Regions from separate parts of the Homo sapiens genome. Here regions 2, 3, 4, 5 and 6 are each linked to region 1. The links come from fine-mapping of genetic effects on gene expression. A gene starts in region 1. Each other region holds a variant in brackets. All regions are shown on one strand. Distances are from middle to middle.

Region 1 (5,074 bases):
AGCAATGAATGAGAGACTTCTTGCTGTTCCACATCCTGCCAGCATTTGATGTTGTCAGCGTTTGGGATTTTATTCATTCTAGTAGGTGTATAGCAATACATCTTTTTTGTCTTAATTTGGAATTCCCTAATGATGTATGATGTGGAGCATCTTTTCATGTGCTGATTTACCATCTGTATATCATCTCTATTGATATGTTTGTTCAGCTGTTTTGCCAATTTTTTAATTGGGATCATTTTCTTATTGTTGAGTTCTAATTATTCTTATTTTTTATTACAGTTCTTAATCATGTATATGATTTGACATATTTTCTATTGGTCTGTAGCTTTTCTTCCCATTGTTTTAACAGTGTCTTTTGTAGAGCAGAAGTTATTAATCTTAACGAAGTCCAATACCAATTTTTACTTTCATGGATCATGCCTTTGATGTTGTATCTAAAATGTCATTTACAAACCCAAGGTCACCTAGGTTTTCTCCTTTTTATCTTCTAAGAGTTTTATAGTTTTGCATTTTATATTTAGGTCTATGATCTATTTTGAGTTAATTTTTGTGAAAGGTGTAAGGTCTGTATCTATGTATCCAGCTTCTTTTCTTTTTTTCTCTCTTTCTTTCTTTTTTTTTTTTGTGATTGGATGTCTAGTTGTTCTAGCACCATTTGTTGAAAAGGTGATCTTTTCTCCATTAGATTTCTTTTGCTCCTTTGTCAAAGATCACTTGACTCTATGTGTGGGTCTATCTTGGCCTCTCTATTCTGTTCCATTAATCTATTTGTCTGCTCTTTCACCAATACCACACTGTCTTGATTACTGTAACTATAGTAAGTCTTGAAGTTGGGCAATATCAGTCCTCAGACTTTGTTCTTCTCCTTTAATATTGTGTTGGCTATTATGGGTCTTTTGCCTTTTCATATAAACTTGAGAATCAGTTTGTGATATTCACAAAATAACCTCCTGGGATTCTGATTGGAATTACTTTGAATCTATAGATGAAGTTGGGAAGAACTGACATCTTAACAATATTAAATTTTTCCATCCATGAACATAAAATATCTCTCTATTTATTTAGTTCTTTGATTTCTTTCATCACAGTTTTGTAGTTTTTCTCATATAGATATTGTACATATTTATTAGATTTGTACCTAAATATTTCATTTGAGTGGTGTGCTAATATAAATAGTATTGTGGTTTTAATTTCAAATTCCCATTGTTCGTTGCTAGTATATAGAAAAGCAGTTGACTTTTGTACATTAATTTTGTATCCTTCAATCTTACCATAATTGCTTATTAGTAACAGGAGAGTTTTTTTGTCAATTGAAATTTTTCTACATCAACAGTCATGTCAGCTGCAAAGACAGTTTTCTTTTACCTTTTCCTTCACAATACGTATACTTTTAATTTCCTTTTCTTGTCTAATTTCATTAGCTGGGACTTTCAGTATGATGCTGAAAAGGATTGCTGAGTAGAGACATACTTGCCCTGTTCCTTATTTTAACAGGAAAGCTTCTAGTTTCTCACCATTAAGCATGGTGTTAGCTGTACGCTTTTGTAAATGTTCTTTTTCAAGTTGAGAAAGTTCCCCTCTATTCATAGTTTGCTGCTATACAATATGATTTTAATATAAAAAAAGCAGTACATAAAGTAGTGTGTACAATTTCATTCCGATTTTTGTGACAACTGTATTTTGCGTTGGAAAAAAGCCTGGAAGAGAATACGTTCATAATTGAAAGTCGTCATTTTTGGCTGGATAATGGATATTTTCTTCTCCACATACTTCTATCTTTTCTAAATTTGCCCCGATGAAAAATAATATTAGGAAAGGTGATTAGGTAGTCTGAAGAGAATGCCTTTCGGCCGTCGGGGGCAGTGGGGTGGTAAGGAAAAAGATGAGAAGCTTTTAAAATGGAAATCTATGAAGAGAGAACTGATTTCGTAATTGCATCATCAGTGGGAAAGTAAGCTCTCTGAGGACCAGGTCTGACTGAGAGATCCCCACAGCGTAATAGATAATACATTTTGTGTCTCAGCGTTGCCTATGAAACGCCATTTATTCACTTGGCATGCTGAGCATGGAACCAGGTTTCTTTCTTTCCAAGTAGTTTTGCTAATTTAGAGAAAGAGAGAGACAGACATATACATAGAGAGAGAGAGAGAGAGAGAGAGAGAGAGAGAGAGAGAGAGTGTGAGAGAGAGAGAGAAAAGTACTGAACTGGGAGCGGCAGGGTTTGAGTCAAAAGAGAAGGGTGGAGGAGCGCGTCCGGTGCCCCAAGGCTTCCAGGCGGAGCGCGGGCGCGAGGTGCGGGCTCCGGGGCGGAGCGCACGCCCGGGAGGCGGGAAGTGGGCAGCAGCGCCCCCGCCTGGCCCCTGTGCGCCCCGACCCGACGCCTCCCCGCCCGACCAGGTGCCTCGAGAGCGCACAGCTGGGAGGGCTCTCCCGGTCGCGGCGAGACTCACGCCTGCGGTGTGCTAGGGCGGCGGCGACGGTGACGGGCGTGGGGCGCGGCGCTGCCTCGGCTGCCGGGTCGTTGCGGCGAGCGCGCGGGCCGGCCTGGAGTCACCGGGCTGAACCGCCGCGCCTGCATCGTGCCGCACGCCGCGGAGGCGCTCGGGTACAGACCGCGCGGGCGCGCACAAAGCGGCCCGGGGCGGCCGGCGCGGCGCAGACCCTCGGTGGGCAGCGCACTCCAGTCTTCCCAGGCTAGCGGCTGCAGGGAGCTCCGGCCCGCGGCCCCTCCGCCTCAAGTCTGGGAGCTGCCGGTCCCACTCTGTCTTTGCCTATGGGGATTCGAGAGTTTCCCAGCGGCGCACCCAGGGGCAAGAGCATTGCCGTGTGAGTAGCGCCCCGGGCGTGGGTGAGCGAGCCGGCGGGCGGGAGGCCGGAGCGCCGGGGTAGCCCTTTGCAGCTGGGACACTGGGCAGTCTGAGGCTCGGGGAAGGGCGGCGCGCGCGGTGGAGCTGCTCGGGAAGTTTCAGTCATTCTTTCCCTCGCCACTCGCCCCAACCCGCACTGCCCCGAGACGCCCAGGATAGGGCACTGGGGACAGCTGCCCGGGGAAGTGGGTGAGTGGCGGCGGGAAGGGAGGAGCGCGGGCTCTGCCGCGGCGCTCGCCCCCGGAGGGCCCCGGCCGCGCTCTTGCTCTCGCCCTGGGATCTGCTCCTCACGAATCCCCTCCTCTCTGTCCATGCTCCCCCTGCCCACCCACCTGCCCGTGGCGCCTGCGACCGCAGTGGCATGAGGAGGTCACCGGACGTCAGCCCCCGGAGACTGTCCGACATCAGCCCCCAGCTCCGGCAGCTCAAGTACTTGGTGGTGGACGAGGCGATTAAGGAGGATCTGAAATGGTCGCGCTCCGTGGAGGATCTCACCAGCGGGCCGGTGGGGCTCACGTCCATCGAGGAGCGGATCCTGCGCATCACTGGCTACTATGGCTACCAGCCCTGGGCAGCGAGCTGCAAAAGTAAGACCCCCTCACGTCATGTTTCCCGTTCACTGGTCCATCTTCTTACCATTGTCACAGCAGCCTCGGGGAGCGCACGCAGTGAGGCGTCCAGCCACCCCCTCCCGCCCTGCCTGCTGATACAGACCCAGGTTTGCAACTTCGAGGAAGAGGCCCGGAGACGGAGTTCTCCTGGACCTCTGAGGCGTTCTGATGCGTTCTCTTACACCCCTTCCTCTCCCACACACAGGATCTCTCTGTATCCTTATCTCTCCACTGCCAAATACGGAGGACACTCCTATGTGGCAGACCGTGGGAAACAGATCAGAAACTCAAAGTATCCCGGACAGTGTGGCTTCCCCGCGGATCTGAAAGTCTCACAGGGCCCTCGGTCAGGTCTCACCAGGCTCAGATGGAGATGCTGACTTACATAGCCAGGATTTTAACTCTTCCTTGCATCTCCTAGCCCTGATGATAGAGGACAATTCTTGGGGTCTTCATTTTGGATGCCGTTCACGCCCTTCTCCCCTGGATTTTATCGGTCTTCAGTAAGGAGGTTCTATAGGGATCATTCTAGATAGTGGTGTTGGTCCCTGCAAGTTGAATGTTTGGTGTCAGGTGGAGAAGCTGAAATGTTTTTCTTTCCGTGGGTCCTAGCTAATGGCTTTGAGGATGCTGTGATCAATTAGACAGACATTATCTTATGTCACCAGGACTAATTTGGTGGACATTTCTTTTTCTCACTTTGCAAGAGAGAGGTTGATTATGATGAAATCCAGATATCTATAAATATAACCATAATTAGGTGGTCTCATCACTGTAGTTTGACATAAGAGATTGCCATTTGCCACCTCAGTCCGTATGAGAAATGGGCCTTGACGTCTTTCATTTGTAATAAAGACTAGATTAATAGCTTGTTGATTTTGAGTTTTTTTCGACCTTTTATTGCTTAAAATTGAAACATTATTTATTGGTCTTTAAGGGGAAAACGGGCGTTTGTAATTTAATCATATTCATCACTAAAAAAAAATGTCTATCTTTAGATTATTCCTAAAACCTGCGAGTCCAAGGCAAAGGTCAGTGGTATGCTAGCAGTTAGCTGGTTAGTTTAAAATTATTTGCAGGAAGAAACAGGATTTGAATGTTTTGTTTTCATGCAACTTGCTTTTAAAAGACTGTGTTTCATTGGGTATAAGCCTTTAAAAAAATTGTCTGTATCTCTTCCAATCTCTTGCCTCTGCTGCTAAAATTGTAGCTTATTACAAAAGGAAGACAAGGGGCCAAATTCTCTTTTTGGTTGAAAAACCCTGGGCATGGGATAACAAAAATTAAACCCCATTGGAAACCATATTTCTTATGGGCATGGATAGAACGCTCAAGTTTTACTTCTGCTTTCTAAATTTCTATTAGAAAATAGCAATTTTCTATTCTTATTTCCATTTTCTGCTTCCTTAATAACAAAAGACAGTGGTATAAATGACAGCCTTCATAAAGTCATCTCTTTGGTGCTTGAAGTCATAAAAAGGTTTTATCTTTATAAATCTATTTGTGACTGGCTGTATGTGCTTTGTGGAAGTTATCACCAAGGTTTGTGATTTGGGGGCTTGCCAGAGAGCTTACAGCAGTGATGACTGTTTGGTA
Region 2 (5,074 bases), 93 kb after region 1:
TGTTGTGAAGGAGATGGCAGGAGAGTCAGGCATGATTGCAAGCTGTGGAGATAGAGGGTGGGAGCCCCTGGCCAGATGGATAAACCTGAGCCTGGCTGGCGTTTCTGCCTGTATATTCCCATATTCATGGGCGAGCATTTATTTTAAATGAAGTGTTAAGGATGCCTGATCCCTCCACTTGTGTTAAGACTGATTACTGATCTTTGATGGGAAAGCTGCTTTGATCTGTGATAAAGTCAGCCAGGCAGTCAGCATCCCAAATTGCTTCTACATATTTTCTGATGACTTCACGCGGAGGCTTTTCTTGGACAAGTCTCAGTATAACAACAGCAGCAGAGGAGAGGAAGGCAAAGGTCCCTGCTTATCCCTGGTAAACAGCACGTGTCTCATGGCATGCATCTGGGCACCCCATTGTTACAAGTTCAGCAGCCTTCAAAAGTCAGTGAGCCTGTGGACTACATCCCTCCTGCAGCAAGGAGGCAGGACTGTAACGGGTGGGACCTGTGCCTACTGCTAAATCAAACATCTGCAGCCTCTTGGTTAACCCCCATTCTAGTATATTTTTCTAGCATTTCTTTCTGGCTCCTTTAGGATTAGCATAGCTTGAGAGAAGAGGAAAGCAAAGTTTTTCTTATCTTTATTCTGAGTGCCTGGCAGACTTATCAATTGAACAAAATTGAATTGTCCTCAACTGTGGGCATTTTATTGACATCTTTGAACAGTTGGAGCATTTTATTAATATTTTATATATATACACAGTTGGCACTCCATATTTCTGGGTTTCACATTCATAGATTCAACCAATCAAGAATTGAAAATATTCAGGAAAAAACGGTTAATTGTGTCTGTACTGAACATGTACAGACTTAAAAAATTATCGTTGTTCCCTAAACAATACAGTATAACAGCTATTTACATAGCATTTACATTGTGTTAGAGATTATAAGTAATCTAGAGATAACAAAGTATATAGGAGGATGTGTGTAGGTTATATGCAAACACCATGCTACTTATCTACGGGAATGGAGCATCCTCGGATTTTGGTATTTGAGGAGGATCTTGGAACCAATCCCTCATGGATACTGAGGGGCAACTCTGTATGTGCATGTGTTATTCCTAGTGCTCGGCCCACCAGGTGTGAATTTGGAAGGGTTGCCAATTCAGGTGAGGAAAAGTGAGCTAAGAGACATCCTCAGGGGAGGATGAGGACTTGGGGGGAATTTGTGGGTTCCCTGACAGCCTCACACTGGTTGCCAAACCCTTCCCTCTTTGGAATGTGCCATGGCAAGGCATTTATTTCCTCACATGGTGATCATTTTCACTCACACATAGGGTGTGTCCAAGGGTATTCCACTCTACAATGATTAATAATGATTAGCCATCATTGGGGGTTGGGAGGGACCAGGCTCTGTGCCGAATGGCACTTATTTGCACTCTCTCATTCGATACTCTCAGCAAGCAGGCAATCTCATCCCATTTTAAAAAGTGAGAAAACTGAAGTTCGACTTGGTTCAGAGGCTTGCTGAAATTTGAATAGCTGGCAACTGGCAGAATGGGATTTGACTCCATATTGGGTGACCCTGTGACCCCCCACCCCTTACTCTTTGTAACCACCATTTTATATTTGACATTTTGGGGTGTTTTTCGATTTCACATGTAAGTGAGATCATCTGGTATTTGTCTTTTTGTGTCTGGCTTATTTCATATAGCATAATGTCCTTCAGGTTCATCTATCTTGTCACAAATGACAGGATTTCCGTCTTTTTTCAGGCTGACTATTCCATTGCATATATACACCACAATTTCTTTCTCCACTCCCCTGTGGTTGAACACTCGCGTTGCTTCCACATCCTGGCTCTTCTGAATAGTGTTGCTGTGAACATGGGCGTGCAGACATCTGATGAGCTTGTGATTTCATTTCCTTTGGGTATATATCCAGCAGAGGGATTGATGGGTCATAATGATCATTTGAGTTTTAATTTTGGGGGTATCTCCATACTGTTCTCCATAATAGCTGTACCAATTTACACTCCCCCCACAACAATGAAAAAAGGGTTTCCTTTTCTCCACCTCCTCATCTATACTGTCTTTTTGATGATAGTCACTCTAATGGGTGTGAGGTGATATCTCATTGTGGTTTTGATTTGCATTTCTCCAATGATGAGTGAGGCTGAGCACCTTTGCATATACCTGTTGGTCATTTGTATGTCTTCTTTGGAAAAACATGCGTTCAGATCCCACTTTCAGCCTTTCTTGATCCTCCTACCCTCATAATAAGCATCGTTCTCCCTGGGGGCACACCATTCCTTCTTGCACCACAATACTGATTCTTTTCTTTTCTATGCTCTTTCACTTCTTTTATTTTGAGAAATATAATATTCTGAGTGGGAATGAACAACTGCTAACATGTTCATATTTTCTTTCTTTTTTTTTTCTTTTGAGACAGAGTGTTACTCTGTCATCCAGGCTGGAGTGCAATGGCACAATCTTGGCTCACTGCAACCTCCGCCTCCCAGGTTCAAGTAATTCTCCTTCCTCAGCTTCCCAAGTAGCTGGGATTACAGGCACCCACCACCATGCTTGGCTAATTTTTGTATTTTTAGTAGATATGGGGTTTCACCATGTTGGTCAGGCTGGTCTCGAACTCCTGACCTCAGGTGATCCACCCACCTCGGCCTCCCAAAGTGCTGGGATTATAGGAGTGAGCCACCGCGCCCAGCCCGTATTTTCTTCGAGTCTATTTTTAATTAAAAACGAAAGCATTATAGATGGATATGTGTGTATTCATATATAATATATACTATGGTTCTGCGTGTTTAAATTCTAATGTCTCATACTATAAGCAAATAAAGTCTGGTTCAATCATTTAAACTGCCCCTGTGGTATTCTATCCTATGAGTATGCCCAATTCAATCATTCTCCTACCTAGCTAGCTTCTCATTGTTATATGCATTGGATATCAGGGATTTGTCATATGTGTTGCAAATATGATAGCATCTAATTATATAATTAATATATCTCTTCTTCCTCTACGTAGCTATAAACTCTTTCGGGGCAAAAATCATGTCGGATTTTTCTCTGTGTTCCCAACACTTACTGAGTATTATACCAGATA[C/T]AGAATGACCATTTGTTGGAATGTAATGGAACAGGGCTGGAATGTGGAGGACTCTTCAGAGGAGATGCTATGCCTGACTAGTGTAGTGATTTTCCACTTAGGAAGGGATTTCTCTCAGGAAATCATACGAGATTATAAAAAAGCCCTATCAAAAAGAACAGTAATGGAGATGTTCTCTAATGAACTGTTCAACTCAGTAGACACTAGTCACATGGGACTGCTAAGCGCCTAGAATGTGGCTAGTCTTATTAAGAAACTGAATTTTAAATTTTATCTAATGTTGATTAATTTAAATTTAAATAGCCACATGTGGCTTGTGACAGTTATAGCAGCAGGAGTTAAAGGAACATCTAATATCTGATGATAGTGGGAAATAGAGGATTTTACTGATGTGTTCTTACGTGATCATTTTGGTACTTATTAATGATGAGTACTTTAATAAATATTTTGCAAGTATCAGCCTCTGGGTGCCAGACAGTTTCTTCACCTACAGAGTACAGCCCTTGATGCTTACTTTATAGGATTACTGATGGAGTTAAATAGGGTAATTATGCAAAGCCCTTGAGCCTCATGCTCAATACAGACGGCAGCTGTCAGAGTTCTCATTTTTCCATTATTACTACATAGCAAGCATTAGGGATCTGGATATGACTGTCAGTTCCTGGCCTCAAGCTGGGAAGACAAGACAGGACAGATGCAACCCAGGGTATCCCCTTTGTCTAAGCTGTGTTCCTGAGACAAGCTGAGGTCATCCCACGTTTTTTCCACCGCGTCCCAATTACCCACTGACTTAGAATATAAACTCCAGGATATTTTAGCACCAATTCCGAGTGATCATTCACGGCAGAGCTTCTGAGCTCTTTTAATCCTTCTAGGCCTTGTCACCTTGTGTCCATTGTCTCTCCTGTCCCCTCCATTCAGCACGTCACAAGAACAGTTTCCCCAAAGCACCACTCTTATCCTATTTCTCTGCCGCTCCATATCTTCCAAGGGCTCCTTATTTCCTGGAAGCCAAAGCCTAGGTTCGATGCCATCCAGGCTGATCTCTGCTGTTCCGTGTGGGGATTCTGCTTTGCCGGACTGTTTGCTGTCATTTCAGCACATGTTCAGCTTTCCTGTATTGTGCCTTTGCTTGTTTCCTGTTTCGCTTCCCATCTTCAGTGCCTCCACTTATCCCTTCCGGCCCTGCTCTCCTGCCTACTGAGACTCTATCCCCCAGTGTCAGTCAAAGGCTGCCTCTGCCATGCAAGTGGCCGAGCCCATTTGTGCTCTGCAGCACACTCTTTCATACCTCGTATTTTCTGTTTGTGCTACCTTACAGTGTATTTATTTGCATTAATTTCCTTTCTAGACTTTAACATTTGTGAAAACAGGGATGGCATCTTTACCTCTCTGCATCCCTCACTGCATGAGTATACCAAACACAGAAGATGATAAAGATTTGTTAACAAGTGAATAAATAAATGAAAACATTTCAACATTTAGGATATGATTTCTTCTTTAAAGCAAAGTCCTTTTATCATGAGAATGACCCCTGAACTCTCTCGCACAATATGACAATGTTCCTAGAAAAGCCCTTTAAAGGGCTATATAAAATCACAAAATGCATCCTCTTAATCACAAAAACTCTGATCGCTGTGTAACGAGGATATTCAAAGATTTTTAAAGTGAGTATGAATACTCACAGTGAATCACAAGGGTTCTAACTAAGCAAAGAATTAATATACGCAAAGAGTAGAAAACATGGGCTGCGTTCCATTTCATTGGTGAAAAACAGCTCCCTATTCCTAGTGCAATAAGCATGTATGTAGTTAGTTAGGATTGCAGTCCAACTCAGAAACTAAAGATGGAATTTAACTCCTTGCCTTTCACTTTGATTTTGCTTTCAATATAGGTTTGATATTGACATTACCATGAAAATAGTTTACCTTTGTTCCCAATTTTACGCAATGGCAGGGG
Region 3 (5,074 bases), 390 kb after region 1:
ACAAGGATAACTTTCTGTCAACCCATTTTGAATCCTTGAATCTCTGTGTCGTCTTCAAGGGTGAACTATGCATGTCTCTGATCCGCATCACATGCAGGGCCAGGGAGCACACATTTAGATGGTTAGTCAAATCTAAATTATATTTACAAGAAGCCATCAGCATGTGCCATGGAAATCCATCCAGCTCTAAAGTCTATGCTGTTGGTCTGGATGTAGGCAGTTCTGGCTGTGTGTGTGAGGAAGAGAGAAAGAGAGACAGACATACCCAAACAGCACATCTGCCTTCAAAACCAGTGCACCCAGACACACCAGTCTCCTGGGGCTGGCCTTGAAAAGCTTTCCAATTAATAGAAATCAGTGTTATCCAAAAAGGCACATTATGGAGTTGACCCCATCCATAAGCATTCTTGCCCTTGAGATATAACAACCTTTAATTTCAACTTTCATAAAACTGTTCTCTTTAGGAATGATCCTGATTTTTCAAAAGCTGTTGAATTGGGGTCATCTTCGTCTTACTCCAGGTTTGAGACCAGGAAAACACAGCCTGTTCATTTGATGCTGAATTCCACAAGTCGTTATGTCTCTTCAGTTTGAAGGAGGCTGTTTTCTAAAAGCATAAATCATAAGCCAGAGGGAGAGCCCTTGGGATAATTCCCCTGAATGTTTCTTTTCTAAAGACAAATCTATGCCCATGTCTTTAAATAGTTTTAACACAGCTCCTGAAAATAGCAAAGAGCATTGCCTACACATCTGCATAATTAGTTGCAGGGAATAAACCCCAAATCCACATACCCTTTCCTGCAACACCCAGGGAGGCAGGTTCCTTAGGCTCAGCACTCCACACAGGTCCCTCGACAGCGTTGAGCCGAAGCAACGAAGGAACCACCATTGCAACAGGCTTGGCTCTGTTTCCTGGCTCTGTCTCGGCCAGCAGAGTAGGTGGGCAGCGACTCTCTTTCTGGTAAAGATTGTTCCACTTTACCCAGCACATCAGCCACAATTAAGGCTTCACTAAAATAAATGCAGAGAGTGGGGAATTGAATCAGGAGCCCCTAGTTCTAGACTCAGCCCTGCTACTAACTAGCTCCCCATCACCCTGGGCAGAATGCATCACATCCATGCCAGAGCTTTCCTACATCTAAAGTACGGAAGTCGGAGCTCTGACGTCCCTGCCAACTGATAGTTCACAGTTTTAAGATACCCACTTGCTAAACTTTCTGGCAGTATAAATGTGCTGACGTTGGCAAAATCTGCCTAAACGTCAAGCGCTGAGTTCCGCTCATTTATTCACAAATATTTCCTGACTGCCACTTTTGGATTGTGCACTATCCTAGATGCTGGAAGGTACAAAGGTGACTGAGACACAGGCTCCTTCTTCCAGGAAGAGATCGTGCTCTGCTAGGAGAGACAGCTATGTAAACAGTCATGATAGAGCTCTGTGGAGGTGGGAGGGAGGGAGGCACAGAATATTATGGGGGCAGATTTACAGGGTGCCTGGGGGGGGAACCCAAAGTCAAAGAGAAAGCCATGGAAGAGGAGAGAGCCAGTAACTCCATGAAGGAGACAGCAGCAAGGGGATATCTGCAAATTTCTGAAGCCCACGGGGCCTGAGGCAGAAACTGAGTTCAGCCAGATGCAGAGAAATGTCATGATTGTCTAGCGAGGAAGGTTGCCCATCTCAGTGCCTCGCTGTCCCAGCTGGGCCCTGTGATGGCAGCTCTGTGTTCCTGCAGCCTGCTTTAGTGACAGATCACTAGGACAAGATATTGTTCCTGCTCCTCTGAGAAAGGCCAAGGACAGCAGGTGACATTAACATGAGTGACGAAGGGACTACAGTTGGGCTGAAAGCCTTTTGGAATTCCCATAGGGTAATTAAACTATCCCATTACACGTTCTTGAATATCTGTGGGGTAGCTCTGTGAGATAGCTCATTGGATACTGCATTGCTGCCTTGCGAAGCTTGGGCTTTGAAGATTGCCATTCTGCCCACGGATGTGTACCCAATTTCCATTCCCTTTCATGGTGACAAATGCAAAGAGCACATTGGTCAGGCCAGTTCTCAAGTGTCAGTCTCTCGATTGCAAGCACGGGAGCCAGGCTGAGCTTGAGAGGGAGTGCTGCTCGCCCAAGGTCTTCAGGAAATCTCATCAAATGTTTGGAATTTTCATTGGTTGTCTTTCCACACTGTTAGAATCCTAGATCCCTGAAATGTGGTGTGGGGGTACAAAAGCAAGCCCAGCTTTGAAATCTCAGCTGCTTTTCTTGTTAAACAATTATTTGAAAATTCTTTTTCATAGCGAGCTAAATATACTCCTTTCTACCACTGCAAAGCCCTAAATAAATAACCACCCCTGAGGAAGAAAGCCAGGCCAGCCAGCAGATGAACACAGACACCTGCCACAGCTGTGGAGTCCCATTCTGGGACTCTGACGGGCACCCTCAGATCTGGTGTTGCTCCACTGTTCCCACTGAGTCTGAGTTCCAACTTCTTTTAAAGGAGCCAAGTAAAGGTCCACACACTCTGCTGTGTCTTCTCCACTCTGGGATATAAATGCTGTTGGATCATGTGTTATACAAATGTATTCCTGGTTCATCTCTTGACAGTTTAGTGAAACTCAAACCAATCATTGCTGATGTGGAAGTTGTGAAAAAGCAGGAACATAGAAGTGA[G/A]AGCCCAGCAGCTGTTATTTTCTGGTACCTGTTGAACAAGAGCTGAGCGCTGTTTCCCTCTGTTTTGCGGAGGGATGTGCTTTCTTAAAGCAGAAGGTTGACACTTTCCTGAGCCGCCTATTCCATTTCAGTACTAACAGCTGTCATTAGAGCCCATCTCCAGCTTGCTCTTCATCTCCTACGTCCATCGCAAAAAAATCACATTTTGCAAGGGATGGTCCTATGGGGTCTTTCTGCTTCAAAAAAAAAAACCTAGTGTGTAACCTCACTGGGTTAAGTGGACTATCACAAACAAAAGTATTCAGAGTAGATTTATTCCATGCAATATTTTAATGGACTCTTTAGAATAGGAAGAGTGGTTTCTGATATGGAGAGGCTGTTTCAGGTTGGAAGGAAATGTGCAGAGGTTCAGAAGGTCCGTCCTTCCTAAGTAGCCAGACTGCTTCACTTGCCATCTTAGTATCCAGACATAAATGGAGGCTGTCAGTCATCTCTGTCTTTGCCACTTCCATCTTCACCTTTGTCATAGAGCTCAGAATCACTTCACTGTGAATCTAGCAAGTTGGCCAGGGGCCCTGTGGACCAGCGATGCTTTGGGAACAGGCACACTCTCGGCACTTCTCAGATACCTCTGCTATTTGACTGAGCATGCAAAATAACCAGCTGGTCCCCAAAGAACAGATTCCTGTGGAGGAGGCTGTAAAACTCCTAGTTAGTGAGACATATATGCAGTCTGTGCTTCTCCACGTTCCCTCTCCAAGACCTTATCGTTCAGGCTGGACCAGTCCTCAAGGGAAAATCTCAGAAACTAAAATTTCTTGTAGGCTGCAAATGCCTTGAACTTACATTTTCTTTTAATGAAACATTTGCCTACAGTGGCTGAACACAGACAATTAAAAAAAACATGTGGTCAAAGGACCTGAATAGACATTTCTCCAAAGAAGACATACAAATGGCCAATAGGTATATGAAAAGATGCTCAGCATCACTAATCATTAGTGAAATGCAAATCAAAACTACAGTGAGATACCACCTCACATCTGTTAGAATGGCTGCCATCATAAGCAAAAGACAACAAGTGTTAGTGATAATATGGAGAAAAGGGAACCCTTGTACACCGTTGTAGAAATGAAAATGGGTACAGCCACCATGGAAAACAGTATGGAGATACCTCAAAAAATTAAAAATAGAACTACCATATGATCCAGAAATCCCGTTACTGGGTATATATACAAAGGAACTGAAATCAGTATGTTAAAGAGGTAATGTCTGCATTCCCATGTTACCACAGCACGATTCACAATAGCCAGCTTCAATGTTTATTGATGGATGAATGGATAAAGTGTGGTATGTATACAACATGTAATACTATTCAGCCTTACAAAAGAAGGAAATCCTGCCATCTGGGCAACATCGATGGACTTAGAGGACATTATGCTAAGTGAAATAAGCCAGACACAAAGGGACAAATACTATATGATCTCACTAATATAAGGGAATAGTTAAAATAGTTAAGCTTGGGCCGGGCACAGTGGCTCACGCCTGTAATCTTAGCACTTTGGGAGGCCAAGGTGGGAAGATTACTTGAGCCCTGGAGATTGAGGCTGCAGTGAGCCATGATCATGCCACTGCACTCCAGCCTGGGTGACAGAGCAATACCCTGTCTCAAAAAAAAAAAAAAAAACAGTTAAACTCATAGAAGCAAGGAGTATAATGGTGGTTGCCAAAGGATAAGGGGGGCAGAAAACAGGGAAGAGTTAGTCAGAGTGCAAAGTTTCAGTTATGCAAGATGAATAAGTCCTAGAGCTCTTCTGTACAGTAGAGTGCCTATAGCTACTCATACTGTGGCATATACTTAAATACGTGCTAACAGGGTAAATCTTATGTTAAGTGTTCTTAACACACACACAAAAAAAGAGGGCTGAGGCAACTTTGGAGGTGATGGATATATTTGTGGCATTAATTGTGGAGTTCATGGGTGTGTACTTACTCCAAACTCATTAAATTGTATACATTAAATATGCACTGCCTTTTTTAGGTCAATCATACCTCAATAAAGACAGGTTTTTTTTGAGAAATGTAAATATGTGACATCTCAGAGAAAGACAGTGTGAGTGATAAAGAAAAAGAAATGAAGGATTAAGGTATGCTGAAAGTGATTGAGGTAGTGTAGTTACTGTTTTATAGAGGGTGTCTGGGAAGGTCTCTGAAGTTTGGTCAGAGATCTGAAGGGGTGAGGAAAAGAACCATGTCCAGATCTTCCCCCATATTTACCTTTTTTACTCCAAAGAAGATGGTAAGCCAATGAAAGTTTTTGAGCAAGAAAATAACATGGTCTGATTTATGTTTAAAAGAAAGAGACAAAGGTATGAAAGAAGGATAATAATAATCTAGGTAAGAAATG
Region 4 (5,074 bases), 310 kb after region 1:
GTCCTACCTGCAGGGATGATAGCAGGGCACCTCTGATGATGCACTGTCATGGGATAAATGCCCCTCCGGACTCAGTGGTCACTCAGGGATTGTGCTGGCAAGTGATGCAATAGGTATATGTCATAGCTTTTTAATGAGCACCATCGGCCAGTAGCTTACAGCTGTGTCTGAGTGCCAGCAGTGAAGCTGGTGCCTGCAGAGGCAAATGTCAGATCTGCAGCTGAAGCAAGAACCTGGGAGCTGGGCAGAAAAGGAGCTTTCCTGCTACCGAGGTGAGTTTGGATCTCCAGACTGAGGCGGTGGGGTGGGAGCAGAAATCTCTTCAAGCCTTTGTTTTCTTGTGGCTGTTTTGCTTCTGTGGTGTTTGAACCACCCCCCACTCCACCCCGCAAAAAAATAGCTGTCCACGGGGCCAGACAAGATAATGTGCCTCTAGACTCAAGAAGTGAATGGCAGCCTTGGGAAGCTTTGCTTTTTCTAACTCTCCCTGTGAAATAATTCAGGACTTCCGCACACTGAAGAGTCAACTCTCAATCCAAAGTCAAGCACTTCCCTTTTTAAACTTGTGCAACGCTGAGGCTTAAGTTCTCAGGGTCTCCCCTCCGCAGGCGCTGGTCCTTTTAAAGGGCTTCTCAGAGAGGTGGTGGCCAGAGGCTGCAGTCAGGACCTGGCTGGGAGGAAGACAGGGATGAGGGCTGCGGGGCTGGGCGTCCCGGGGAGGAGGGCGGAGCAGGTGAGCTGCGGGGTGGGAGCAGGGAGTGCACTTGTACGTGACGTTGGAGTTTGCAGCAACCTCCAAGTAGGAGGCTGTGCGCGCGTGTGTGTGGAGTGGCTGCGCGGCCGGGGAGGATGTGCGCTGCAGGGCGGCCGCCGCAGTGAGCAACGCGGCAACCGGAGCCCGGCGGGCAGCCGGGGAGGCCGGGACTGAGAGGGGCGAGCCGCTGGTGCTCCCCGGCGGCAGAGGGCCGCGTCGGCCACGGGCCCGGGAGAGACGCGCTCCAGCCGGCCCCAGGATGTAGGCGATCGGCGGCAGCGCTCCTGCAGGCGGCCGGCTCATCATGAAGAAGCACTCGGCCCGGGTGGCCCCGCTCAGCGCCTGCAACAGTCCGGTCCTGACCCTTACCAAAGTGGAAGGTAATGCGCGGCCGCCTCGCCCCGGGGGTCCCTGCACCCTAGCCGGGGAATGCTGCCACCCTGAGGGGGGCTGTCTGGCTGCGGGGCGCCGGGGCTGGGGGTACTGCTCCCCCAGGACGCGGCTCCGCAGTGCAGAGCGCCGCCGCCTGCGTGGGGGGATCTGGCAGCTTCAGGGGCTGCCCTGAGCTCCCTGGCGAGCAGGAGTGAGCTGCTGCGGCGAGTGAGCACCCGGCTCCCCAACCCTCTCCTTCCTGGGCAGCACCCAGCGCATCTGGCAGCAGCTGCACCCTCACCTCCATCCCAGTTTGTCCTGGGGCTCTTGTCTGTTCGGCAGGAGGGGGTCGTCCAGCCGCTCCCAGTGTCCCCTTACCACACACACACTTGAGTTGCCTGGGTGTGGAGCTCTGTGCCTCACCCCCAGGCCGACCAAAGGTGCTGCCCGCAGTTGGTAGAGGCGGGAGAGGGCTGCAGCGGGCTAAGGAGACGTCTGTCCTGCGTGTTCCGAAGCCTTTCCGGCCACCAGCCAACTGACTGCCCTGCTCTTTGGGAATGGGCGGGGCGCACAGGTGAGGGAAGAGCCAGCACCAGTCTGTAAACAGGCTCTTTCCCAGGCCCTGGAGAGGGATTGGAAGGGCTGTGAGAGGCCCCCAGAAGGTGTCCTCCTCCCCGTGTTGTCCTTTCTGCCTGGAACTGCTCCCACCCAGGAAATGTGAGCGAGAGGACAGGGGAAGAAGCAGCCCACCGAGGAGAGCTTCCTCAGACACAGCTGGCTTCTGCTGGCCTAAGGGGCCTTGCTTTCCAATGGAGAAGGGGGGCAGAGGGCCAGTCCCAGTTCTTAACTCCTCCTCCCAGGAGGCAGAGGTGGAATGACTAACTCCCTCTGCCAGGAGCAAGCCACCTTGGCCAGGTGAGGCAGACAGACCATCCCCTGGGTCCCAGGAGCTCCCCTCTAGGCTTTTGCTTGTGCTGAGCTAACAGAGCCCATGAGCATCAGCGGTGAATGAGGGGCAGCCATGGGCTCCGACAGAGCCTGGCTTCTGCCCTTCCCAGGAAGCCTGGACTTCTCTAGGCTACTGTTGACCCTGCTTCCCACTCGTGACTTCTTGTTTATTACAATGAATCTCAGAACCAGCGAGGACAAGACAGAGGCTGGCTTGGTAATTGTATATCCCAAGCT[T/C]AGCTGTCCACACAGGCCTGCCTGCAGCTGCCCTAGTACTGTGATCCCCATCCTACTGAGGAGCACTGTGAGGCCCAGCAAGGTGGGTTAACGTGTCCTAGACCCACAGTTGGTAGGTGGTGAAGCAGGAATGGAATCCTGGGCTGTCCGATCCAAAGCTCAAGCATTTTTTCCAGAACATCAGTTTGCACTGAACTGCAACTACTTACCTATTTCTCAACATTTTCTATCTTTAGGAGGTTGGGTTTTTTTCCTTCTTGTGGCTGTCTTCTTCTCTCCTCCATCCCAACCTCAGGAATGACTTGATATCAGCCATCTACACCTGAGTTTAGTGCAAGTGCTACCTCTTCCAGGGGTGTTTGTATTTCTAAGCCTACCCAGACATTGCCCACATGCATGTGTGAATTGGGGAGGGAAGGATTGGCCATTTATTTCTCTGAGGGAAGCAGGGAGTGAGTGTCTGCTCACTCATAGGGTCCTCATGGGAAGCTGCCCACTCCTACCTCCTAGTAGGACAGATTGGTTCTGCTCTCCAGCAGCAGGGGGTCTCCCTGGGAAACTCCCAGCCCACCTTAGGCAGGACAGGTTCGAACTGCACTGGAAGTGGGGCAGGACGCGGATGGTGGGGCTACCTGAACTGGGTGCTGTGGCCTCAGAGGTGCTGCAGGAGGCAGTGAGTGGCATGCGAGGCACAGGTACTTCCCTATGGCCAAGCCTGGAGGTTGCCTTCAGGGAATGAAAGTGAAAATTATCTCCCACTAACCACCAACCCCCCAAAAAGTCCCTTAGGGCTGCTGCCAAAAGAGCTTTGAGTCTCCTGCACCTGCTAACGCCAGCAGCTGCCTCGCCACGGGCTTGGCTTTGGAACTAGCATTTCCTCATAAATGCCTGTGGATAACGGAAATGTATAGTGAACTAAGAAATGGTGAGATTGAGGATCAAGACTGGGCCCTGCCCCTTTTCCAGTTGGATTTGTGTAAATCACGAACACAGCCTCAGTTTCCGCAAACGTAAAAGAGAAGGAACAACCTACTTCAGCAGGCTGTGAGGAGATGCAATAAGGTAGAGGTAGCTGAAAATGCCTGGCAAGCCCCCAGTTGCATTTTTCGTGGGATACCTACAAGTATCCCATGCAAAATTCTGCCCCTCGGGGCCTCATAAAACCTGCTCTTGGTATGCCTGGCTCACATATAGCTCTTTCTCTCTGCCTAGTTTTTTTCCTTGGTGTTTTTATTCAGTTTGGCTTTTGGTCTATTTTTTGGAAACCATTTGCATCTTATGTGCTGGTTTTGGAAGTGTTGAATCATTTCATTTTAACTTGAATGCACAGGGCAAGGTGGTCCCCATGCTGTGGGTGTTTCTGTATGGATGGCAGACAGGCTACAGGGAGGGAATGCAGCCAGCGAGGAATATTTATTAGCTTGCAGAGTGTGTCATCTAAGGGGAGGCAAGAAGGCACCAGCATGTGGTACATATAAAACCAAAATAGAAAAGGCAAAGCTTGGTTAAACTCAAACACAGGAAGATGGGCAAGATGACTTCATTTACTCAACAAATACTTCATCCAACCCTACTCTGTGTCCTGTGACAATTTAGCAAGGCCCTGGAAAGGCAAAAAGGAACAATTCTAGCTTCATTCTCTTAAGGACGTTTTAGTCTAGAGGGGAAGAGACATACAGATAGATAGATAAATTATCAAATACAAAGTAGTAAGTTCTGGTATCGAACTGAAAAGCAAGGTGTCACGGGGACACTGAGAGTTGAGCAATCTGAGGAGGTGTTCCTGAGGAGGAGGCCTTCATGAGGAGGAGGGTTTCTACAGAGGAATACTTTCTGAGGGGGGCCTTTCTGAGGGGAAGGCCTTTCTGAGAAGGAGGCCTTTCTAAGAAGAGGCCTTTCTGAGGAGAAGATATTCCTAAGAAGAGGAGGCTTTTCTGAGAAGGAGGGCTTCTAAGGAGAAGGCCTTGCCGGGGAAGCCTCCTCAGAAAGATCTCTGAGGAGGAGGCCATTCTAACAAAAGGGCCTTTTTGAGGAAGAGGCCATCTAAGAAGGAAGCCTTCCTCAGGAAGAGGCCTTTCTGAGGAGATATTCCTGAGGAACAGGCCTTTCTAAGATGGAGCCATTCTAAGGAGGGGGCCTTCCTGAGGAGGAGGCCTTATGAGGCATCACAGCTGAGGCTGGGGGGATATGAGAAAGCTTGTTGGTGCAGAGGGGAGGAGAGGCAGTTTCAGGCAGAGAGAACATGGATGCTAGGGCTCAGCCCAGAAGCATGAGGAGAGTGGGGCTGGGCCTTAGATAGGGGTTAAGGTTTGAAAAGTGTGTTCTGGCGAGATTGATGGCATCTGTCATGTCTAAAAACATACCTTGTTTTCACAGATCCTTTGCTTGGCTTTCCTTTCAGAAGCAGAGCATTGGTCAGTAGCACATCTCTAATAGACTAGTGTTTACTGGGATCAGCTCTACTCACAATCAACTCATTCATGTTCAGTGAAATTACATTCAATAGGGATTAATCATTGAGAACAGTACAATGAATTCCCCCAAGAGGCGTGCAGCAAGTAGTGTTGTGGAAAGGGTGAGGGCTTTGGAATTAGATGGACTGGGTCTATCCAGCTGTCATGCTAGGTGAGTGATTTCTGGCTAATGAATAAAGCTCTCCAGGAATCAGTTCCGTCCTAGGAAAGGAGGGGTGATGACATCTTGCTCTTAATACTCAAATAATAGTTTTTGCTAATGAATGCCTCCTATATTGCAGGTACTATG
Region 5 (5,074 bases), 360 kb after region 1:
TGGCCATCTGGAATTAAGGCAGAAGTCACCTGGGGAGCTTGGGGTTTCTCTATATGAGTTCTGCTCAGGATCCCAGAGAGCCCTCTGGACGGAGATCATGGTCTTCCATACTGGGTCCTCCTTCTTTGAGTTTTGAACGGTAAGACTAGCCTAGGCTGAGGGGTAACATTCTGGGGTCAGGACTTGGGATATGAAATTCAGTTATCTTAATACTATGGACAGCCTGCTTAACTTTGCAGAGCCTCATCTTTTTCATCTATAGAAGGGGGATAACAAACGATCTTAATGTAGTCAGGTTAGTATGAGGCTCAGGTGAGTCATTTCCTGATTAAGCACATGGCACCGGGAGAAACTCCGCATACATAAGTGCCTCACGTCTCCCTCCATTTCCTCCACCAAAGTTACCCAACAGCAAGAACAAGACACTTTACTGCACGGACTTCCTGTGTTCGCCTCCCTCGATTGTAACCTCCAAGTATACACAGAGTTCCCATGAGAGGGAAATAGTTAAACATCAAAACAGGTATGAGCAACTTATGTTTTCTGCTTCACATGAAGCCAAACCTAGAAAAATGGAAGAGTTTAAGGACCGAAATTCTTTTTCCCTTAAAAATGAAAATAATTGTATTAAGTAAAATTTTGGCTAACACAATGCTAAGTGGGGCTTGTTGGTGGCAACCCATCCAGGCTACCTCCCGAGAAAGTGTTACCAGAAAGGAGTCCTGATCCAGACCCCAAGAAAGGGTTCTTGGATCTCATGCAAGAAAGAATTAGAGGTGAGTTTACAGAATAAAGTGAAAGCAAGTTTATTAAGAAAGTAAAGGAATAAAAGAACGGCCACTCCATAGGCAGAGAAGCCCTAAGGGCTGCTGGTTGTTTCTTGATCATATGGTAAACAAGGGGTGGTTTATTTGAGTTTTCTGGGAAAGGGGCAGGGAATTCCTGGAACTGAGGGAATTCCTGGATCTATAACTGATATAGTTATCCTATATCCATATAGAATAACTTCTGGATGTTGCCGTGGCATTTGTAAATGGTAATGGTGCTGGTGGGAGTGTCTTTTGGCATGCTAATGACTTATAATTAGTGTATAATGAGCAGTGAGGATGATCAGCTGTCACTTTTGTCACCATCTTGGTTTTGGCGGGTTTTGGCCGGCTTCTTTATTACATCCTGTTTTATCAGCAGGGTCTTTGTGACCTGTATCTTGTGCCTATCTCATCCTGTGACTAAGAATGCCTAACCTCCTGGGGATGCAGCCCAGCAGGTCTCATTTTACCCACACTCTATTCAAAATGGAGTCACTCTTGTTCAAATGCCTCTGACAAAAGCGGTGTGACAAGCCTGGGATTCCCATAGTGATCATGCTGGTAGGAGTGAGGTGTTATTATTTAGAAACACTATTGCACCCGCTAAGGATATGCATGGATAAGGTGAGTGAGAAAAATGAAAGGGCTTAACTAGTGTCGTACAGCCAGTGAACAGCAGGGCAGAGACTCAAACTTGGGTTTGCAGATGAGAAATCCTTCACCTTTCTATCTCCACAGTATTGACATCTCCCCAGCCTCTAAGGCTCACCCCAGGACAGTTGCCTGGTTGGGTAGGAAGCTGTTGGTGTTCATCTCAACAAATATTTACTGAGCACTTACAATGTGCCATGCTCCATATTAAATGCTGGAGGGTAAAGTGATGACTAAGAAAACCTCAACTTTCAAGGCATTCTATAATGTGCTACAAAGGGGAGGGAGTTACTTTAGGAAAGGGAGAAAGAGTGTGAAGCAATGTGCTAGTAATTATCAGTGAGAAGGATAACGTTGGACTAGCAGGGGGAGAGCCCTGCTGTGGCACTGACTTGCTTGCTGTGCATTTAGGCGAGATATTTCTTCTTGTGAGCCTCTGTTTTCTCACCTGTGAGATAGGGTTAATAGACTGATGTAACAAGCTTGTTTGATATGACTATAAGAAATACTTTGAGAATACATGCATTAATGAAAGCCCTCTCCAGTGCCTGGCATGTGGTTGGCACTCAGGAATGGTGGTGTCTGTCCTGGGAGTGGTGGTTGCAGTGGCTGCTTTAGGATCTGGCTCTTCTTACAGGAGAAAGAAACAGTTCCACTTCCTTCTAGGTAAGCTGTTTTTATTACTCCCTTCCTGGTCCTCCGGAGGGCCGCTGGCATTTGACTTTGGCAGAATTAGGACCTGAGTATGCCAAATGAAGCCTCTCTGGTGCCCATACTATCAGCCTGGATCCTGCAGGTAAGCTGCAAGCTGCAACAGCTTCAGGCACTGGTACAGAATGCGGTTCCGGTTGTGGTCTGAGGGCAGGTGGTGAGACCCTCTGCACCACCAAGTCACAGGCTCTGTTCCCCACTTCTCCTTTCCAGCCCCAAGGTGCGGGTTATTGGAATTCAGCTAGCTTTGGGAAAACAGGACTGTTTGTATTCTAACACAGAGCTGAGTCTCTATTAGGCAAACAGCCCTTTGACTAATGGACTTGGCCTTGGAACAAGAGCAAGCTG[C/T]TTACATTCCCAGGTTGCCACAGTTCTGGGCTACAGTTTGTATCCGGAGCAGATATGCCAGTGATCATGTGGCTTTGCATATGGGTACCCTGCTGATGGGATCACACACATAAGTCACATACAAGACTGCTGGTGAAAAAAAAGGAGTTGCTATGTACCTCAGATGACTGATCCTGCTAATCCTGGTCCGGGTGCTACCTGCAGGGGCCAAAACTGAGAAGCTCTGTTTGAGAAAGGGAGAGACTAACAGAAGCATGATGAGAAAAATCTGGGAGTTGGGGACTAGGAGTTAAGGCATATTTAGGTTCTATTTAGGATGGGGAACTTAAAAGAGATATGAATTTTAAAAGAACAAAAATTTTAAAGAGAGCTAAAAGAATGTTAAAGGAGTACAGGAATTTCTGATGAGAATTTTAACTCTTATTAAAATTATTATTTAGTATGCAAAATAAACCCTCTGTTCCACCTCCCTTGTGAAATCTTAGGTAAAATTCATCTTGCTTGCGTCTATATTTATGGGCTTTGTTGACTCGGGAGAGTATGCAACAGCATTTTGAGCCTTGATTTAAGGCTGGGAGGTTCTCAAAATGTGATCCCTGGAGCAAGAACATGAGTACCACCCAGGAGCTTGCTGGAATTGTGGTCTCAGGTCCCACCCCAGACCTGAAACAGAAACTCTGGGGATGAGGCCCAATCCTCTGGGTAATTCTAATGCAGTTGAAGTTTAAGAACCACTGGGGCAGGGTGACATCCTAGAAGCAGCACTTAGAGACAGCCAACACTTGAGATTTACTAGTGTCACCCACGAGAAAGCTAGGACACTTGTGCTCAAGGCTGGCTGACATTAGAATCACCAGGGGAGCTTTTAAGAGTCCAGATGCTGGCCCAGCATGGTGGCTCACGCTTGTAATCCAGCAATTTGGGAGGCCGAGGCGGGCAGATGACCTGAGGTCAGGAGTTCGAGACCAGCCTGGCCAACATGGTGAAGCCCTGTCTCTACTAAAAATACAAAAATTAGCCAGGCATAGTGGCAGGCACCTGTAATCCCAGCTACTCAGGAGGCTGAGGCAGGAGAATCACTTGAACCCAGGAGGCAGAGGTTGCAGTGAGCCAAGATCACACCACTACACTCCAGCCTGGGCGACAGAGCAAAACTCTGTCTTAACAACAACAACAAAAAATGCCATAAATTGGGAGGAAATGTTAGCAATACAGAAATATTAGCAATACAAATAACTGAAAAGGATTAATATCCAAATACCATTCACCACACCCTGAGACTAACCCACCAGGTGTGCACAAGGAACCTTCCACTTGGTGTCTGTTCAAGGACCTCACTCCAGCAGTTGTTCCCACCTTCTGCTGGATCATGTTCATCGCTCATTATAATATGATAGCTCTAAGAATTTAAAAAGTACACCTGGCCAGGTGCCACCTTATTTATCTCTCTGAATCCAGCAAAACTTACCGGAAGAGTAGTCTGTACTCTGTCTCCCTTTCTCTCTTAAACCTACACCACTATGGATGAGCTCTTATCAGAGTCATATGTTGCCAAATCCAGTGACCATTCTTAGTTGTCATCTTACTGTTAATTTTTGTTTTTATTTTTTCATCTCGTTGATAGAGGATCTTGCTCTGTTACCCATGCTGGAGTGGAGTGGCATGATCATAGCTCCATCATTACTACAGCCTCAAACTCTGGGGCGGAAATGATCCTCCAACATCAGCTTCCTGAGTAGCTAGGACTGCAGGCACACACCATCATGCCTGCTAATTTCTAAATTTTTTGTAGAGATGGGGTCTTTCTGTGTTGCACAGGTTGGCTTCAAACTCCTGGGCTCAAGTGATCCTCCCACATCAGCCTCCTGAGTAGCCAGGACTACAGGCATGCTCCTCCATACCTGGCCAGTATTCCTTTTACCTAAGCTAACACTTGAACCCTCCTTATTGTTTACCTGGGACACTGAACTTTTTGTGTCATCTCCCTTCCTCTCTGGCTGTTCCTTCTCAGGCTGCTTTACTGGTTCCTCCGGCCTCCCTGAACTCTGAACAGTCCAGGGCCCCACGCTCAGTCCTTTGTCCTCTCCTCTGCAGTGTCTACGCTTGCTCGCTAGGTGAGCCCCTCCTGTCTCATGTCTCCCTGATGATGACCCCCAGATGCATGCCCTCAGCCTGGACCTCTTTCATGAATTCCAAGACCTATAACCAACAGCCTGTTCAACACCTGCCCTCGAATAGCAAGTAGACATCTCAAATATAACATGTGAAAAATCAAACCCTTCATGTTCTATTCCTCTCACAATCCTCCCCACCTTGAATTACAGCAGCACCATTCTTGCAGTTGCACAGGCCAAAAATCTCAGCATTATTTCTTCTTTTTTTCTTTTTCTTTTTCTTTTTGTTTTTTTGGTAGAGATGGGGTCTTGCTATGTTACACAGGCTGGCCTCAACTCCTGGACTCAAGCGATCCTCCCGCCTCACCCTCCCTGAATGCTGGGATTATAGGTGTGAGCCACTGCATCCAGCCTCAGCATTATTTCTGATGCCTGTCTTTC
Region 6 (5,074 bases), 22 kb after region 1:
TCGATCGTGGTGGATAAGCTTTTTGATGTGCTGCTGGATTTGTTTTGCCAGTATTTTATTGAGGATTTTTGCATCGTTGTTCATCAGGAATATTGGTCTAAAATTATCTTTTTTTGTTGTGTCTCTGCCAGGCTTTGGTATCAGGATGATGCTGACCTCATAAAATGATTTACGGAAAATTCCCTTTTTTTCTGTTGATTGGAATAGTTTTAGAAGGAATGGTAACAGCTCCTCTTTGTACCTCTGGTAGAATTCGGCTGTGAATCCATCTGGTCCTACAGTTTTTTTGGTTGCTATGCTATTAATTATTGCCTCAATTTCAGAGCCTGTTATTGGTCTATTCAGGGATTCAACTTCTTCCTGGTTTAGTCTTGGGACGGTGTATGTGTCCAGGAATTTATCAATTTCTTCTAGATTTTCTAGTTTATTTGCATAGAGATGTTTATAGTATTCTCTGATGGTAGTTTGTATTTCTGTGGGATCGGTGGTGATATCTGCCTTATCATTTTTTATTGCATCTATTTGATTCTTCTTTATTAGTCTTGCTAGCAGTCTATCAATTTTGTTGATCTTTTCAAAAAACCAGCTGTTGGGTTCATTGATTTTTTGAAGGGTTTTTTGTTTCTCTATCTCCTTCAGTTCTGCTCTGATCTTAGTTATTTCTTGCCTTCTGCTAGCTTTTGAATGTGTTTGCTCTTGCTTCTCTTGTTCTTTTAATTGTGATGTTATGGTGTCAATTTTAGATCTTTCCTGCTTTCTCTTATGGCCATTTAGTGCTATAAATTTCCCTCTACACACTGCTTTAAATGTGTCCCAGAGATTCTGGTATGTTGTGTCTTTGTTCTCATTGGTTTCAAAGAACATCTGTATTTCTGCCTTCATTTCGTTGTTTACCCAGTAGTCATTCAGGAGCAGGTTGTTCAGTTTCCATGTAGATGTGCGGTTCTGAGTGAGTTTCTTAATCCTGAGTTCTAGTTTGATTGCACTGTGGTCTGAGAGACAGTTTGTTATAATTTCTGTTCTTTTACATTTGCTGAGGAGTGCTTTACTTCCAACTATGTGGTCAATTTTGGAATAGGTGTGGTGTGGTGCTGAGAAGAATGTATATTCTGTTGATTTGGGGTGGAGGGTTCTGTAGATGTCTATTAGGTCCTCTTGGTGCAGAGCTGAGTTCAAGTCCTGGATATCCTTGTTAACTTTCTGTCTCGTTGATCTGTCTAATATTGACAGTGGGGTGTTAAAGTCTCCCATTATTATTGTGTGGGAGTCTGAGTCTCTTTGTAGGTCTCTAAGGACTTGCTTTATGAATCTGGGTGCTCCAGTATTGGGTGCATATATATTTATAATAGTTAGCTCTTCTTGTTGAATTGATCCCTTTACCATTATGTAATGGCCTTCTTTGTGTCTTTTGATCTTTGTTGGTTTAAAGTCTGTTTTATCAGAGACTAGGATTGCAACCCCTGCTTTTTTTTTGTTTTCCGTTTGCTTGGTAGATCTTCCTCCATCCCTTTATTTTGAGCCTATGTGTGTCTGCACATGAGATGGGTCTCCTGAATACAGCACACTGATGGGTCTTGACTCTTTATCCAATTTGCCAGTCTGTGTCTTTTAATTGGAGCATTTAGCCCATTTACATTCAAGGTTAATATTGTTATGTGTGAATTTGATCCTGTCATTATGATGTTAGCTGGTTATTTTGCTCATTAGTTGATGCAGTTTCTTCCTAGCATCGATGGTCTTTACAATTTGGCATGTTTTTACAGTGGCTGTTACCAGTTGTTTCTTTCCATGTTTAGTGCTTCCTTCAGGAGCTCTTGTAAGGCAGGCCTGGTGGTGACAAAATCTCTGAGCATTTGCTTGTCTGTTAAGGATTTTATTTCTCCTTCACTTATGATGCTTAGTTTGGCTGGATATGAAATTCTGGGTTGAAAATTCTTTTCTTTAAGAATGTTGAATATTGGCCCCCACTCTCTTCTGGCTTGTAGAGTTTCTGCTGGGAGAGCCGCTGTTAGTCTGATAGGCTTCCCTTTGTGGGTAACCCAACCTTTCTCTCTGGCTGCCCTTAACATTTTTTCCTTCATTTCAACCTTGGTGAATCTGACAGTTAGGTGTCTTGGGGTTGCTCTTCTCGAGGAGTATCTTTGTGGCATTCTCTGTATTTCCTGAATTTGAATGTTGGCCTGCCTTGCTAGATTGGGGAAGTTCTCCTGGATAACATCCTGAAGAGTGTTTTCCAACTCGGTTCCATTCTCCCTGTCACTTTCAGGTACACCAATCAGATGTAAATTTGGTCTTTTCACATAGTCTCATATTTCTTGGCGGCTTTATTCGTTTCTTTTTACTCTTTTTTCTCTAAACTTCTCTTCTTGCTTCATTTTATTCATTTGATTTTCAATCACTGATACCTTTCTTCCACTTGATTGAATCGGCTACTGAAGCTTTTGCAAGCGTCACATAGTTCTCATGCCATAGTTTTCATTTCCTTCAGGTCATTTAAGGTCTTCTCTATGCTGTTTATTCTAGTTAGCCATTCATCTAATGTTTTTTCAAGGTTTTTAGCTTCTTTGTGATGGGTTCCTACATCCTCCTTTAGCTTGGAGAAGTTTGTTATTACCGATCTTCTGAAGCCTACTTCTGTCAACTCATCAAAGTCATTTTCTGTCCAGCTTTGTTCCGTTGCTGGCAAGGAGCTGCGTTCCTTTGAAGGAGAAGAGGTGCTCTGATTTTTAGAATTTTCAGCTTTTCTTCTCTGGTTTCTCCCCATCTTTGTGGTTTTATCTACCTTTGGTCTTTGATGATGGCGACCTACAGATGGGGTTTTGGTGTGGTTGTCTTTTTTGTTGATGTTGATGCTATTCCTTTCTGCTTGTTAGTTTTCCTTCTAACAGTCAGGACCCTCAGCTGCAGGTCTGTTGGAGTTTGCTGGGGGTTCACTCCAGACCCTGTTTGACTGGGTATCACCAGCGGAGGCTGCAGAACAGCAAATATTGCAGAA[C/T]GGCAAATGTTGCTGGTAGGCAGCTTTTTCAAATTGGCTTCTTTCACTTAGTAACATGTACTTAAGGTTCCTGCACATCTTTTCTTAGCTTGATAGCTCATTTCTTTTCAGCATTGAATAACATTGTATTGTCTAGCTGTATCACAGTTTATTCATCCATTTACCACTGGAAGACATCATGATTTGTTTTGGTAATTATGAATAAAGTTTCTATAAACAAACAATCATGTGTAGATTTTGTGTGAACATAAGTTTTCAACTCCTTTGGGTAAATGTTAAAGAGTTAGATTGCTGGATTGATCTCTGTAATTTTTGATATGTAAGTAGGAATGAGCTTAACTCATTGAATAATATTTATTTCCATAAGAAAATTTTTACATTTGTATCATCTAATTTACTTCAAAATGGTTTTTCAAAATTTATACCTATAACAACAAAAAATAAGAATAAGATTGATGCTAAACTCTCTCATTCTAGCAGTAATACTCATGTATGGGCACGTGTACTACTTAAAAAAATTTCCGTCCATTTTACTAAGAGACGCATTCTAATAATTTTATGTTAAATAACTATCGAACTTGTGAGATGTTTACATAATTTTCATTTGAAGTACTAATAAAAACTGAAATTTTAACCCAATTCAGAAGACATTTTTGAACACTAAAATACATATGGACACAGAAAATTAAATAACTGAATTTCCATTCTTATACTTAATTTTTGTCTCCCAGAGTATGATCTATGTCCATGATGCTTCACAGATAAATATATAAGGGAGAAAATGGAATGGTATAAAATTGCTTGTTGCTAAAGAAAACTATCATTTATGTATTTTAAAATAGATTATTATTGGTATCAAATAACTATGGTAATTAGATTCCTTAAATAGATATAAAAAGTAATGTAGTAGCTTTATTTTAAAGTATTAATATTTATAAATTCTGAAAATCATATCTTATAACTTTCAAATTTATTATGGAAAAGATTCAGAATGAATGAAAACATTCAAACATGATACATTTTTTTTCAGAAGTCTTTTATGGAGGGTACAGAAGTCAAAATGTTTGAAGACCTCTGATAAACCCTTCCAACTTCCCTGTTCTTGGCACTGTAAATTTTCTGCATAAGCCCTAGCCCTCTGCTTCCTCACATGTTGCCAGCAATAAACAATGGGCAGCAGTAATCATGGAAGTCAAGTCGACCTATAGTGAGCAAATTTTCTGGTAAAGCCAAGGAGAAATGGGATAATTTTCTGAGCACTGAGGTCACACTATGGGTTCTGTAAGAGGTAATTTATCAAATAGTTTTTTAGAAGAAATGTGAGCACATCACTGAGTGAGTGAGTCACTGTCTCTCCCTTTCCTTTACTCACAAATAATAATAATAATTGGAACCTGCAGTTTTACACATAACCTAAATCTACTGAGAGAGAATATAGTAGAGTGATTAAGATGATGGACTTAATTAGTCATTGCTGAGTTTGAATCCCGCTACCTGCTTACTGCCTGGGCTCTGGGGAAACTAGTCAGCCTCTCTGAACCTACTTTTCCTTTTTCCTTTTCCGTAAAATGACAGTTCTAGTTCAGATAGTTGTTGAAAATATTTTGAGATAATGCATCCAAAGGGCTGAATACAGTACTGGTGTTTGGAAGGTGGCTAGTTAGTGACAACTTTGGTTAATATTAGATTATTATTGTTGAAAGTCTTGACTTACAAAAGGAATCTTATGAAAGGGGTTCATTATAGGGCCCTTTCAAAAGGAGAGCTTCTCTGATATATTTGAAATATAATTCGACTTCCGAAAATAATGCAGGGTGGTAAGTAGTATCAGCGAGCTGTTACTGTGTAATGCTTCCTGGCAACTTACCCTGATCTGATCTCTATACCTTATTATGTATTGAAACATGGCTATGCACTCCATGAATATGTACAAGTCTGATTTGTCAATTTAAAAATTAAATTAAATTTAAATAAAGTCTTAGTGGCTTCAAGCAATAGTACAAACATTTAAAGCCTGTGTTCTCCTCATGTCTGTTAATATAGAATACATTTGGCCAAAATAAGTCTCATGGTCAACCC

Direction of the effects. Positions count from the first base shown, and alleles are read on the strand shown. Sizes are in standard deviations (SD) of each study's normalised expression. Not every link is listed here.
In carriers of allele T in region 2, the expression in thyroid of the gene that starts at base 2,372 in region 1 tends to be lower than with C alone (moderate effect, 0.47 SD a copy in GTEx).
For the expression in substantia nigra of the gene that starts at base 2,372 in region 1, T is the low allele of the variant in region 4 and C is the other (small effect, 0.36 SD a copy in GTEx).
With allele C in place of T in region 5, the expression in stomach of the gene that starts at base 2,372 in region 1 is lower (moderate effect, 0.51 SD a copy in GTEx).

What was found. PIP is the estimated chance that this variant, and not a neighbour inherited with it, causes the effect.
Region 2: its variant is fine-mapped to the expression of SLC35F3 in thyroid (GTEx, PIP above 0.99).
Region 3: its variant is fine-mapped to the expression of SLC35F3 in whole blood (TOPMed, PIP above 0.99).
Region 4: its variant is fine-mapped to the expression of SLC35F3 in substantia nigra (GTEx, PIP 0.98). The same link has a PIP of 0.9 or more in spinal cord.
Region 5: its variant is fine-mapped to the expression of SLC35F3 in stomach (GTEx, PIP above 0.99). The same link has a PIP of 0.9 or more in cerebellum, sun-exposed skin and unexposed skin.
Region 6: its variant is fine-mapped to the expression of SLC35F3 in thyroid (GTEx, PIP 0.90).

Annotation. Positions count from the first base shown.
Region 1 is chr1:233,902,305-233,907,378 of GRCh38, forward strand. SLC35F3 (solute carrier family 35 member F3) reads left to right here and starts at 2,372. Exons shown (of 8, transcript NM_173508.4): 1 at 2,372-2,826; 2 at 3,225-3,454. The coding sequence starts at 2,774.
Region 2 is chr1:233,995,331-234,000,404 of GRCh38, forward strand. The region is part of intron 2 of SLC35F3 (solute carrier family 35 member F3); the gene reads left to right. Among named protein-coding and RNA genes, the nearest start is that of SLC35F3, 93 kb to the left of the region's middle. The variant C/T (reference allele first, on the strand shown) is at 3,116.
Region 3 is chr1:234,293,407-234,298,480 of GRCh38, forward strand. All of the region lies in intron 3 of SLC35F3 (solute carrier family 35 member F3), which reads left to right. Among named protein-coding and RNA genes, the nearest start is that of MIR4671, 11 kb to the right of the region's middle. The variant G/A (reference allele first, on the strand shown) is at 2,671.
Region 4 is chr1:234,213,441-234,218,514 of GRCh38, forward strand. The region is part of intron 2 of SLC35F3 (solute carrier family 35 member F3); the gene reads left to right. It overlaps LOC124904553 (a long non-coding RNA gene), which reads right to left and starts at 1,642. Exons shown (of 2, transcript XR_007066948.1): 1 at 1,428-1,642; 2 at 1-671. RefSeq lists silencers at 888-987, 1,088-1,187, 1,238-1,357 and an enhancer at 2,867-2,956. The variant T/C (reference allele first, on the strand shown) is at 2,312.
Region 5 is chr1:234,260,427-234,265,500 of GRCh38, forward strand. The region is part of intron 3 of SLC35F3 (solute carrier family 35 member F3); the gene reads left to right. Among named protein-coding and RNA genes, the nearest start is that of SLC35F3-AS1, 10 kb to the right of the region's middle. The variant C/T (reference allele first, on the strand shown) is at 2,520.
Region 6 is chr1:233,923,998-233,929,071 of GRCh38, forward strand. All of the region lies in intron 2 of SLC35F3 (solute carrier family 35 member F3), which reads left to right. Among named protein-coding and RNA genes, the nearest start is that of SLC35F3, 22 kb to the left of the region's middle. The variant C/T (reference allele first, on the strand shown) is at 2,996.